Regions from separate parts of the Homo sapiens genome. Here region 1 is linked to region 2. Evidence: fine-mapped expression QTL. Tissue or cell type: whole blood. Region 2 holds a variant in brackets; the other region holds the start of a gene. All regions are shown on one strand. Distances are between the middles of the regions.

Region 1 (5,311 bases), 51 kb before region 2:
GTGCATTTTAAATTTTGATAGCTCTTGTTGGATGGTTCTTAGAAAGGCTGAAACCACAGTCTATGAGAGTGCTTCTTTCCTCACTCCGCTGCAATGCTGCGTTCTTAACATTTTGGATCACTGTCTCCCTGATAGGTGAAAATAATATCTCATTGTTTTGCATGTCTTTAATTATGGTGAGTCTGAGCGTATTTTGCATGCTTTACAGACATTTTGTGTTTGTTTTTCTGTGAATTGTCCTTTTGTATCTGGATTTCATTTTTAGTGAGGTCTCCATCTTTCTCATTGATGTTTAAGAGCTCTTTGCAAATCAAAGAAATTAGCCCTTGGTCTGCCAGTGTTGCAGGTATTTCTCCAAGCTTGTCATAAGTCTTGACTTTGCTTACGGTATTTTTTCCACAGAAAAGCTTTACATTTTTCCGTAGTCAAACCTACAAGGCTTTTCTTTTTTATCCTGGGCTTTGTATTTCCTACTCCACGATATGAAAGCATTCATTGGAGATGTGGCCCAGTACTTTTGTGGTTTTATTTATTTTTATATCTAAATCTTTGATCTACCTGGAATGTGGCAGTCCAGATTGTTTTTCTCAGACAGGCGGCCAGTTGTGCCAACGCCATCTTTTGCCACTTAGGTGAAATATGTCTTTTATCATAAACTAAACTTCCAGGCCAGCTTTGACCTGGCATTGGATGGCAGCCCCAGGCTCCCAGCACTTGTCCTCTCTTCTCTCCAGGTGACCGAGAGCGAGCCCAGCGTGATGTGGCTCTCGGGGCTGCACATCCCTGAGTCCTACCTCACGGCGCTGGTGCAGGCCACCTGCCGGAAGAACGGCTGGCCACTGGACCGCTCCACCTTGTTCACACAAGTGACCAAGTTCCAGGATGCAGATGAAGTGAATGAGCGGGCGGGACAAGGTACCGTCAGCTCGTTAGGGATCCACAGCCTCTCACTTAGGATTTCTCTCCCTGAACCACCTCCAACTCAAAGGGACAGGCATAGCGTGGGCCTAAATGGGCCAGGCCATGTTTGAAAGCCAGCCTGCTGCAAATATTTCCTGTGTCTCTGCACTGCCCATGTCTTAACACCTCTGAGGGTGGATACGGAAGTTTCTCTTCCACTTTCTCCGTTGAGACCTGGGGTCTATGGCAGGGGAGACCTGAACCATGTTCACTCTGCTAGCTCATGGCAAGTGGGCTCCTAGGTCAGAATTAGCTCTTGCAAAAACCATCAGGTGGCTTTCTTGTAACCCCTGACGGGGCCAGGGGCATGGGAGCCACAGAGCAGCATGGACTAACTTGGTTGGAACTCTTTGATTATGCCAGAACTTCAGGTCCCTTAGACATTGGTTACTGACTGTGCAAATGAGAGCTGGAAACTGCTGTTTCCCCGGGTCCATGTTGTCTTAGAGTTCTTTTAACTGCAAGGAACAAAAGCTCTTTTGAGATGGCTTAAGGACTGGGGACTTACGGTAAAGATGCAGGGACTCTCCAGGTCTCAGTGGCAGGGGAGGTGGCAGGTGTCCGGGCCACCACTCTCTCTGGGGCCACAGGAGTGTGTTCCTCTCTTTGCACATCTGCTGGGTCCTCCTCCCCGGAGACCACTTTCTCTGTGAGGCTTCGACTTCCTGCTCCCCAGCCACTTCGGCTCACAGGGTAGCTGGGGTTGCCATGGTGCCCATTCTGACTCTGGGACCATGCATCTTTCTAGCCTGGGGGCCCAGGGTGGTCTAAGTCCGTGGGCCTTGATGCCCCAGGAATGAGGATTCCTGGGGGAGAGGCCACCGCCCCACACCCATTTCTCTGGGCCATGGGGCAGGGCCACAGGGTCTCCTGTCTGGGCTGCTCCTCCACAGAGGGAAGGTGGGCAGGACAGAAATGCTGGAGAAGGGCCTGGGCTGTCCCCAATGCGCTGGGGAGGAGGCCAGCCAGTGGCCTGTGTGTCGCTGTGTGTGCGCCTGATAGAGCCACTCCGTGGCAGGCTGTGCATGCTCCAGTTGTATCCAGTCTCTGCCTTGTGTCCCTAGGATGCTTTGTCTCAGGACTGTACCTGGAAGGTGCTGACTGGGATATAGAAAAAGGATGTCTTATCAAGAGCAAACCCAAGGTGCTGGTTGTGGACCTGCCGATCCTGAAGATCATCCCCATTGAAGCCCATCGCCTCAAGCTGCAGGTGAAGGTCCCAGCCCCTCCTCTCTGACACCAGGGCCCTTCCTCTTCTGACTGTAGTTATGGCTGAGGTGGTTTCCAACAGTCCTACTTTTTAAAACAGGGGTGCCTAAGCTTTATGGGCTGGGGAGAGTCTTGGAGCCGTGATAAAAGCTACGGATAGCTGCTTCCTGGAAAAGGCGCGGCTGTATGTGTGTGTGGATGCCGGTCCTTCCAGAGGTGTCAGGCTCAAGCTGTGATCCTGTGGTCTAGACTAACCAAGGGGAGACTCCCTCCCTTCTTGCAAAATGCTGCAGACATTGCCTGAGTCATAAAGTGGTTCCCGCTGGTGTGGACAGCAGATGTCTTCTGCTCTGCCTGGGCCAGGACCCACTTTTAACCAGGGTGTCAGTGTGAAGCCAGGTCCCCGTGAAGCTGGCGGAGGGTGGCCCTGAGCAGCCCCAGCCTTGTGCGTGTTCTCAGGTGCAGTCTTGCACAGGGGCCCCTGCCTGTCAAGACTTACACTGCACCTCTGCCTTTATCCCTCTGCACCCTCTCTCCGTGGGGGCATCTCACCTGCCTTTCCCTTGCAGAATACTTTCCGGACCCCCGTCTACACCACCTCCATGAGAAGGAACGCCATGGGAGTCGGCTTGGTTTTTGAAGCTGATCTCTTTACCACGAGGCACATTTCTCACTGGGTGCTGCAAGGAGTATGCCTCACCCTGAATTCTGATTAACCTTTGGGTGAAGAAAACTGCTTAATGAATTCGGAGCCTGGGGTTGTCAGAGTGATCGGGTCTGCTGTCATTTCTTGGGGCCTCTCAAGAGGCAGGAGGGGGACTGACACTGATTTTTCATTTGAAATCAGCCACTTAAATCTCTTTCCATACAAATTAACCTGAATGGTTTTGTTTTTAATACTACTTTTTAAAAGGAATTTATATAATCAAAAAGTAAATATTGGAGAGTATTTTAAGATGTGTGGAGTTTTCTTTTCCTTCTCAGAGAAAACACTTGATTAGGCAAAAGTGCCTGGCATACATAGCATTGGCACAAGTGAGAATCCTAATGTAATTTCCAAAGGTGTGTTTTCGATGATCCAGGTCTGTTTCAGCAGATGCTCCTTTTTGGCAAGAAGGGCTGATGATGTCGGGCACAGAGCAGAAGTGACCAGTCACCTGGAGCCACTTCTCCCCCTTCCAGAACTCTCTGGCCCTAGCTTCTTTGGCTCTGACCTGCTACGGCGACTGTGAAGTTGTTGAGCTTAGTGTTTAGTTCCTGCATGAGCTTCTACCCCCAGCCTGCCTGGGTCTGTGTGGGGTCAGGTAAGGACACAGAACCTCCAGGACCAGTGGTCACTGGGCACCCCTTCCCTCTGTGCACCATGAGGCTGGCCTGGAGCCCTGGCTGGCCACCTGGAGGTGAGGGGTGGCTTCACTCCATGAGGGAGGAGAGGGGCTAGCACGGGCAGCACAGTGGGCAGGGGCCATCAGAGGCAAAAGCAGCTTCCCACAGAAGCTCAGGAGCGCAGCACATTCTAAGGACTAGCTCTGGGCCGGGAGGAGGCCGGAGTCGCTTCTGGGACCTGTGATTGCTCTCCCTCCTGCAGTCTCCTAGCCCTCCTTCAGGTGTTTGTTTAATAAAAGACACAAAACAGAAGGAAGGCAGGTTTAGAAAATAAAGTTTGTTGGGATCTTAAACATTTTGGATAAAACTAACAAAAAAATATGAACACACATTCAGGTTGTGGTGCTATGAGGAGTAGCGTCATCTTATTTAGTTCCTTGAGATACACGCACGGCTGCTCGGTGATCGGTGCCGCCCTGGGAAAGGTTGGTCAGGAGGTGACAGGGGTCTCCAGGAGGAGCTCGGGAGGTGACAAGGGTCTCCAGGAGGGAGCAGGGGCTGCTCGGCCAGGCTGCCCTGGAGCTTGAGGATAAGGTCAAGGTTGGTATGTGTTGCTCCGACTTGAGAATGAATTAGGTGTGTGACTGTGTGGCATCGTGAACATCAGTAGTGACGCAGCCGTGGCCTGGGCTTTGCCTGCAGCGCACTTAGGTTACACGGAGCGGGATCAGAAGCAAGCGATTCGGCACACAGGCGTTTGGCCACAGCAATTAGGAAATACATATTCTGCGGCAGGGACACGATCATATTTTGGTGTGAAGAAGAGGGCAAGAGAAGCAGAAGGAGAATGGGTCGGTAGGTGTGAAAAGTGTTTGGCATGCATGGGATTAAACAGAAAAGGTGTGGCTGAGATTTCCCAGTGGTGCTCACAGTGCATGGACAGCGCGGGGTGGGGCACGGCGGGCTTCACACAGTTCTGTCCGTCCCTGAGTGCTTCCTCACCACCTTGCCTCCGTTCACCTGGTCGACCGCCAGGGTCTTCACCTCGGGCTGGGCCTGCGGCGGGGTGGCGTGGTGGATCCGATGTGCCACCCCGACGTGGGCCTTGTGCGGCTTTTCGCGGGCCGGGCTGTGCTGCTCGCCGCTTCGGTCGGAGGCGATGGGGGGGATGACGAGGGGCCTCTCTTTGATGAGGTGGACCTCGGCGGACTCCCTAGCCAGCAGAAATGGGGTGGGGTCGGGCATAGCATCCACTGGTTCCCGCAAAAGGAGTTTCCTGCTCTCTGCCCCGAATCTGTAGACCTCTTCAAATTCCGGGTGCAAGGGGGCTGAGAGGCTCTTTTTCATGCGGCGGCGAGGCGTTTCGGGTAGCTTGTCTTTGGGGGGCGCTGGCTTGTAGCTGGCCAGCACGGGGCTCCCTGACGGGCTGGCATCTGAGGTCCCGCTGGAGCTCATGAGCTTCTTCTTGGCGGCGTGCAGCTGGGAGGTCAGGTAGGCGATGGTGCTGGCCCGCTGCTCCAGCTCGCTAGACAGCAGGGTCAGCTTGTGACTCTTGGCCTTCAGCTCCTCCAGGTACTTCTTCTCTCGCTCCTTGATGGTGTTCTCCAGCACTGTGATCATCGCGTTTTTCTGCTCCAGTTCTTTCAACAACTCAGCATTTTCGTTCTCTTTCACTTTCAGTTGGGCTTCCAGCTCTTCACATCTTTTCTTTAATTCACTGCTTTTAGAAGTCCCGTCTCCTACAAGAATAAGCCGAGGAAGCAGGTGAAGAACTCATTAGACTGAGGCCGAGTGGTGAGGCCTATGGGGCAGGCGG
Region 2 (5,378 bases):
TTGTGACAGAGCTTGTGAGGAAGCCTTTATAGCCAGAGCAGACCCCTGTCCCAAAGATGATGAACTCTGCCACTTAGGTTAACAATACAACAGTTCATAGAAATAATTGGAACCATTTTTCTTCTGCAGAGTAAATCCTGTATGTCCCTCTGGCTTTCAAAATATCACTTTTGGATGTGTAGTTCAAATATGTTTAGGATTGAGCCTGATGGGGGTTTAAGAATATTTCATTGATTCAAAGTACTCGGTGTTGGCTAGAAAACATGTCAAGTTTCTCAGTTAACCGATGTTCAATAAATTACTTTTAATACTATAACTTTACATTGTGATAGGACTAGGACCTTGTGGTAAGCCTCCAGACTCACAGTTAGAATCAGAGAACCTGCACAAAGCGGGTTGCATGCATTTTCATGATGCTTGGCAACTAGAGGTAGTAACCCATTGTGACATTGATTTCAAGTCCTAACTCCTTAGTGTGAAGAGCCGAGGTTTCTGAGCAGGTGTTTGAGTGCCCTCTGGAGGCCTTGTGAACAGTTGAAATGTGGACTCCTAGCAAAGCTTTCTTTCACAGCCAGAGTTGAGAACCAGTGGGCGAGATGGTTGAAACTGGTGTGGATGTTAGGAGCAGAGGAGAGGGGAGATGGAACTCATGGGAATGAACTAGTGTTTACAAGAGCTTGCCCGGCCAACTGATAATACTGGGTTTATGCAGTGAGTGTAGAACACAGAGGCCGTAGGGTCACAGAAGGAGCCAAGGGAGTGTGGCCAGTAATGTCCAGTGGGATAAAGAACAAAAAGTGCCCTTGGATTGGCCAAGAGAAGGCCGACAATGAGAGAGGAACCTCGGTGGTGTGGTGTTGGATTGAGGCATGAGTGGGAAGTGAAGCAATAGAAATCTGGAAAAATCAGTCTTTAAGAGGTCTGGATGGGGAAATGGAGGGTGGGGCCAGGGAGACAGGGTAGCTAGAGAAGGCCTGGGATTAAATGCTGTTTTTCCTTAAGGTTGGGGGAGACTTCTGCATTGTGTTTAAATGCTGAAGGGAAGAAACAAGCACAGAAAGAAAACAGTTGAAAGGGGTGTGGGGGCCGGGGAGGAGGAGAGAGTTGGTTTCAAAGTTCTTTGCCTGGGAGATCTGTTGAGGGAAGAAGTTGCCTTTTATAGGGACTTTGAGTTTGTCAAAGTAGTGATTTTCAGTTTATCGTGGGATGATGGGGAAATAATTCTAGTAGGCAGTTGGAGATACAGGTAAGAAGAAAAGACTGTGTTAAGAAACTGTGGCATCATCATCATGGAAATGGTCATCATTCCAGCCAAGCAGGTAGTTGAGCTAAAAAATGGAGACAGGACATACTGTATGGAGGACTCCTATATTTAGGCATAGGCATGTGAGATGGCAGACACAATCAGCAAGGCCAGAGGAAAAGTGAGAATGTGCAGGGAACTGGGAGCCGAGGAGACCGTAGACTAGGATTCAGGGTGAGGCAGGAGGAACGGCCCCAAGATTTGACTCTGAGAGCAGTTTTGTAGTGGGGGTGGGGGTACAGAATGGTGTGTGGGAGGTGCACACAGAAGGTATTATAGATGCTGTGGAGGAGCTCAGTAGTGAAAGTGAGAAGAGTGAATTGGTCTTAGTCGGGGGATGGCTCCAGAGAACACATGTCACTTATCTGTGCATATGAAATTAGAGCTGTAATCAACAATGACTCTAGAAAGGATTATTTTTGCTTTTTTGTTTTTAACACCATCATCTCAGAATATAAGATCTAAGTTTCATGTAACTTTTGTGCCACTTCCTACTCTTCTCAGATTGAGAATCTGACCAGAAGGAAGAAAATGTCTAGGTCTATTCATGACATTTGAGGGAGTTCTTGCAGGAGAGAGTAAATGTGACTGATTTTTGATTTACTATTCTGACACACGTCAAATGTTAAATCCTTTAAATCTATGAGACCATTTGCTATCATAAATGACATTTTAAAAAACTTCTTGGTAAAACTAATAGTATGGCTAATAGAAGTTATTTGGCTTCACTTATTTAAAATATTTCGTTAAGAAAAGATAACAGATTCCTAATATCAGAAGTGGTAAAATAACTGTGTTTAAATCTGGGAGGTGGGATTTGACCTCTCACTTTAGACTGAGTGCCCAGTTTGAGCGGCCAGGCGTACAGTTTAAGCATACACTTATCCAAGGGGTGGAATGGCAGGTTCCAGCTTAGGCCCAAACACGTCCGCTGCTGTGGGACTGGTGCGAAGATCTGTGAAGGCCTTAAGCCATTAAACTTTTGGAGGCCTTTACTATGTCATATCAAACATTAAATCACCCATGTCCCACATAAAATTAGCTTGTACAAAACCATATGAGTTAAGCTTTGATTGGCTATAGACATTTAACATTTATTAACTTTAATTTTGCAATTTTCTTTTCATGTTTTGCATCCAGTAATGTTTTTTTTCAGATCTGAAACATTTACATAGGTCTTCGAGATGCTCATGAGCCTTAGGGACTGTGCCTATATACCTAGAGATAAGACATCCCAGTTCTGCTGGGAAGTGGACATTGGGTATGTCTAGGCATGTCTGGCGGGGGGCTGGAGGGGGTGGGCTTGCCCAGAATCTGTTTGTTTGTGGCACTGAGGCACCTCCTGGGAAAACTTCATCTTAAGGGGGA[G/A]TTGAAGGAAGTGTTTTAGTTAGGGATTTTTTGTTGCAAAGAACAGAGTTTCATTCAGACCACTTTCTGTACAAGGGGCTATATTGGAGGATGCATGTGGATCAGACCCATGAGGAACTCAGGCTGTCCAGAGACAAGCCACAGTCTTCCCATGGACAGTGAGGTCTCTCACGGCATCACTCATTTCTTTGTGTCTTTCTCCTCTTGCTGCCATCTGGCTTGTTTTTCCCTCCTCTGTATGTCTTTTCTAACCTTTTAGCTCCTCCTTGCTTATAGATTCTACTTCCTCATGAGTTTGGTTTGCTGTGATTTGATGACCTCCGCAGTCATTTTGCGGATCATAACCTCTCAGCTTCATCTCTCACAGCTGATAACCTCATTCTCTCAGTATTGCTTAGATTCCTGAGAGAGAGGGAATCTGATTTTGTTTTGCTTTTATTGTTGTTCCAAGCCACATCATATGTCAGAGTTAAGCTCTTGGGTCAGATGTCTGCACTTGGTCTCAGAAGTGGTCATGTGGCCGATGGCTGCCTGGGCCTACCCTTAAAGCTGAAGCAGTTCCCATTAGTAGGATTTGTAGGCTAGCAGGCACCATGATTGGCATGTATAGTTCAGTAAGGGAGGAAAAAACCTGGCCCAATATCAAGACCACTTGAAATTCCTCCAAATGTATTCCTGCCCTTTAAAATATTATCCTGCTAACAGCTTTCATTCTAAGTTGAACCTTTATTCCCACAGAGAAACTAAAATAGCTAAATGTGTTGAAAGCATTTTCACTTTTCCATTTTCTTCCTGTTTTATTCAGTCTCTGACAGTGCAGGGCCACTCAGCATAGTCTACAGGACTCTATTTCTAATGTTAGTGATTTCTGCTGAAAATGATATAGCAACTTCAGATAGCTATTAGCAAGATGGATCATTCTAACCACATGCCTTTCACATAATCCTTTCCCCCAAAGCTCTGGGGAGCTGTAGAGGCATACTGTAATCCAGCACTGTCCCCAGATTGACAACAGCTAGAAAAACATGTAAATGTCCCATCCACATGTAGATACGGCAGCAGTGTGAACCTAAGTTCCTTAATATATCATAACTCCCAGGGGAAAGTGAAGTTCCCCAAACTTAAAGCTAGATCTTGAGATCTATACCTAAACTTCTCTGAACAATTATAGAATATAGCAGAGGCGGGGAGGTAGTAGATGGAATAAATAAAATAATGATAATGATAGCTTTGTTGAGCCCTTGAAATTTGCCAGGCAGTGTTTTAAGTACTTCTCATGGATTAATTGATTTAATCCTTAAATTACCTTATCAGATCAGCTGCCTTTATTATCTCCATTAACTCATTCTTAACCTCCTAGGTGAAGGTTACACAGCAGGTATGCAGTAGGGCCAGGACATGAACTCACCCAGTCTGACTCCAGTTTGTGCTTCTTCAGTACCCTGAGAGACTGGAAAATCCGTGAAAAAACACTATTGATTGTTTATTCCCTGGCATTTTAGCCAGTCTGAGTCAGTTATCTTATACCTATGAACCTTAAACTCATTTTGGATCTGGTTCCCATCACGAGGCTAATTGTGATAATGGGATACCTATATCTTGGAGGGAAGTTGTGCAGAGTGCCTGGATTTTCCTTTCTGTGGTTTCTCAGATTTGCTCATCCCTTCTTTGGACCTCCATGCCTTGAATCCCATATATTTATATAAATCCCAGATGTAAATAGGTCTGTCCTATCTTCTGAGCTGGGACCCCACGTTTATAGTAGCTAGTTCATGAAAACATTTTGTGATCCTAAATTCTCTATAAATAAACCCATTTTTCTCTTTGCATTTCTCCCATCCAGCAGGATCCTAAGGCCTTTGTAGTCCTTCAGCCACTGTGGGCCCTGCCTCTGCCTGTTCTTCTGGAATGTCTTGGGGGTTTTGATCCTGTCACTGTGGTAAGTTTTCCCCTTGTTTCACCATTTGTCCTAGATGGAGAATCCCCCTTGAGTATTTTAAGCCAAAGCTGTCTCTAGAATTTTTTCTGAGCATGTGCCCTTTGGGCTCAGTGAGGAAGCAGCTCTCCGTGCACGCTCTTCCTGACCTCTCGCCTTTATCTGGCATTGGATTCCCCAGATCTTGGACCACCTTCCTTACTCTAAAGATGTCAGAAACATTTTTGTCCAACTCTTTTTGTTCCCTGGGATCTTCATTTTCTTCTTTCCATGTGAACCATTGGTTATTAAAACTTTGTTTCAGTTGTCCCATTTTCTTCTGCCATCTTGGAGGCCTTACATGGATTCTAGATCTCATGCCACCCTTTGTCTTTTTCTTCTGTTGTTCCTATCCTCACCGAGCTATCAAAACTTTTTAAAAGCTCGGTTGCTTTGTAAATTTCTGGTGTTTTTTTTTTCCCCAACGTCTGAATAATAGCTTTTTCCTTAAATATGAGTTCCTGAAAATCTTCTTACCTGAGGATTATGGTTTCACATTGATCTGTGCAGACTTGATTCTGAGTGTCATTGTGTTCCCAGCACAACTATTTTTTTACTTTGTTTTCTCTTTGGATTTGTTCTTTTTTAAAGATTTTTTTTTCCCTTCTTTGGCTCAACTCAAGAAGGCAACATATATAGGACAGGTATTTGTTTATCTTTATTTGGTCATTGCTGAAATCCAGAATACTCCAGTTGAGCATACAGTCTAGATCTCTGTGATTCACAGACATC

Evidence for each region. PIP is the estimated chance that this variant, and not a neighbour inherited with it, causes the effect.
Region 1: DNAH10OS starts here. The variant in region 2 is fine-mapped to the expression of DNAH10OS in whole blood (TOPMed, PIP above 0.99).

Annotation. Positions count from the first base shown.
Region 1 is chr12:123,932,597-123,937,907 of GRCh38, forward strand. DNAH10OS (dynein axonemal heavy chain 10 opposite strand) reads right to left here and starts at 2,388. Exons shown (of 2, transcript NR_187476.1): 1 at 1,469-2,388. DNAH10 (dynein axonemal heavy chain 10) reads left to right here. Exons shown (of 79, transcript NM_001372106.1): 77 at 735-915; 78 at 2,025-2,170; 79 at 2,739-3,118. The coding sequence ends at 2,885. It overlaps CCDC92 (coiled-coil domain containing 92), which reads right to left. Exons shown (of 5, transcript NM_025140.3): 5 at 3,030-5,234. The coding sequence ends at 4,462.
Region 2 is chr12:123,983,529-123,988,906 of GRCh38, forward strand. The region is part of intron 2 of ZNF664-RFLNA (ZNF664-RFLNA readthrough); the gene reads left to right. It overlaps ZNF664 (zinc finger protein 664), which reads left to right. Exons shown (of 5, transcript NM_152437.3): 3 at 4,515-4,610. Among named protein-coding and RNA genes, the nearest start is that of ZNF664-RFLNA, 13 kb to the left of the region's middle. RefSeq lists a silencer at 485-544 and an enhancer at 735-804. The variant G/A (reference allele first, on the strand shown) is at 2,672.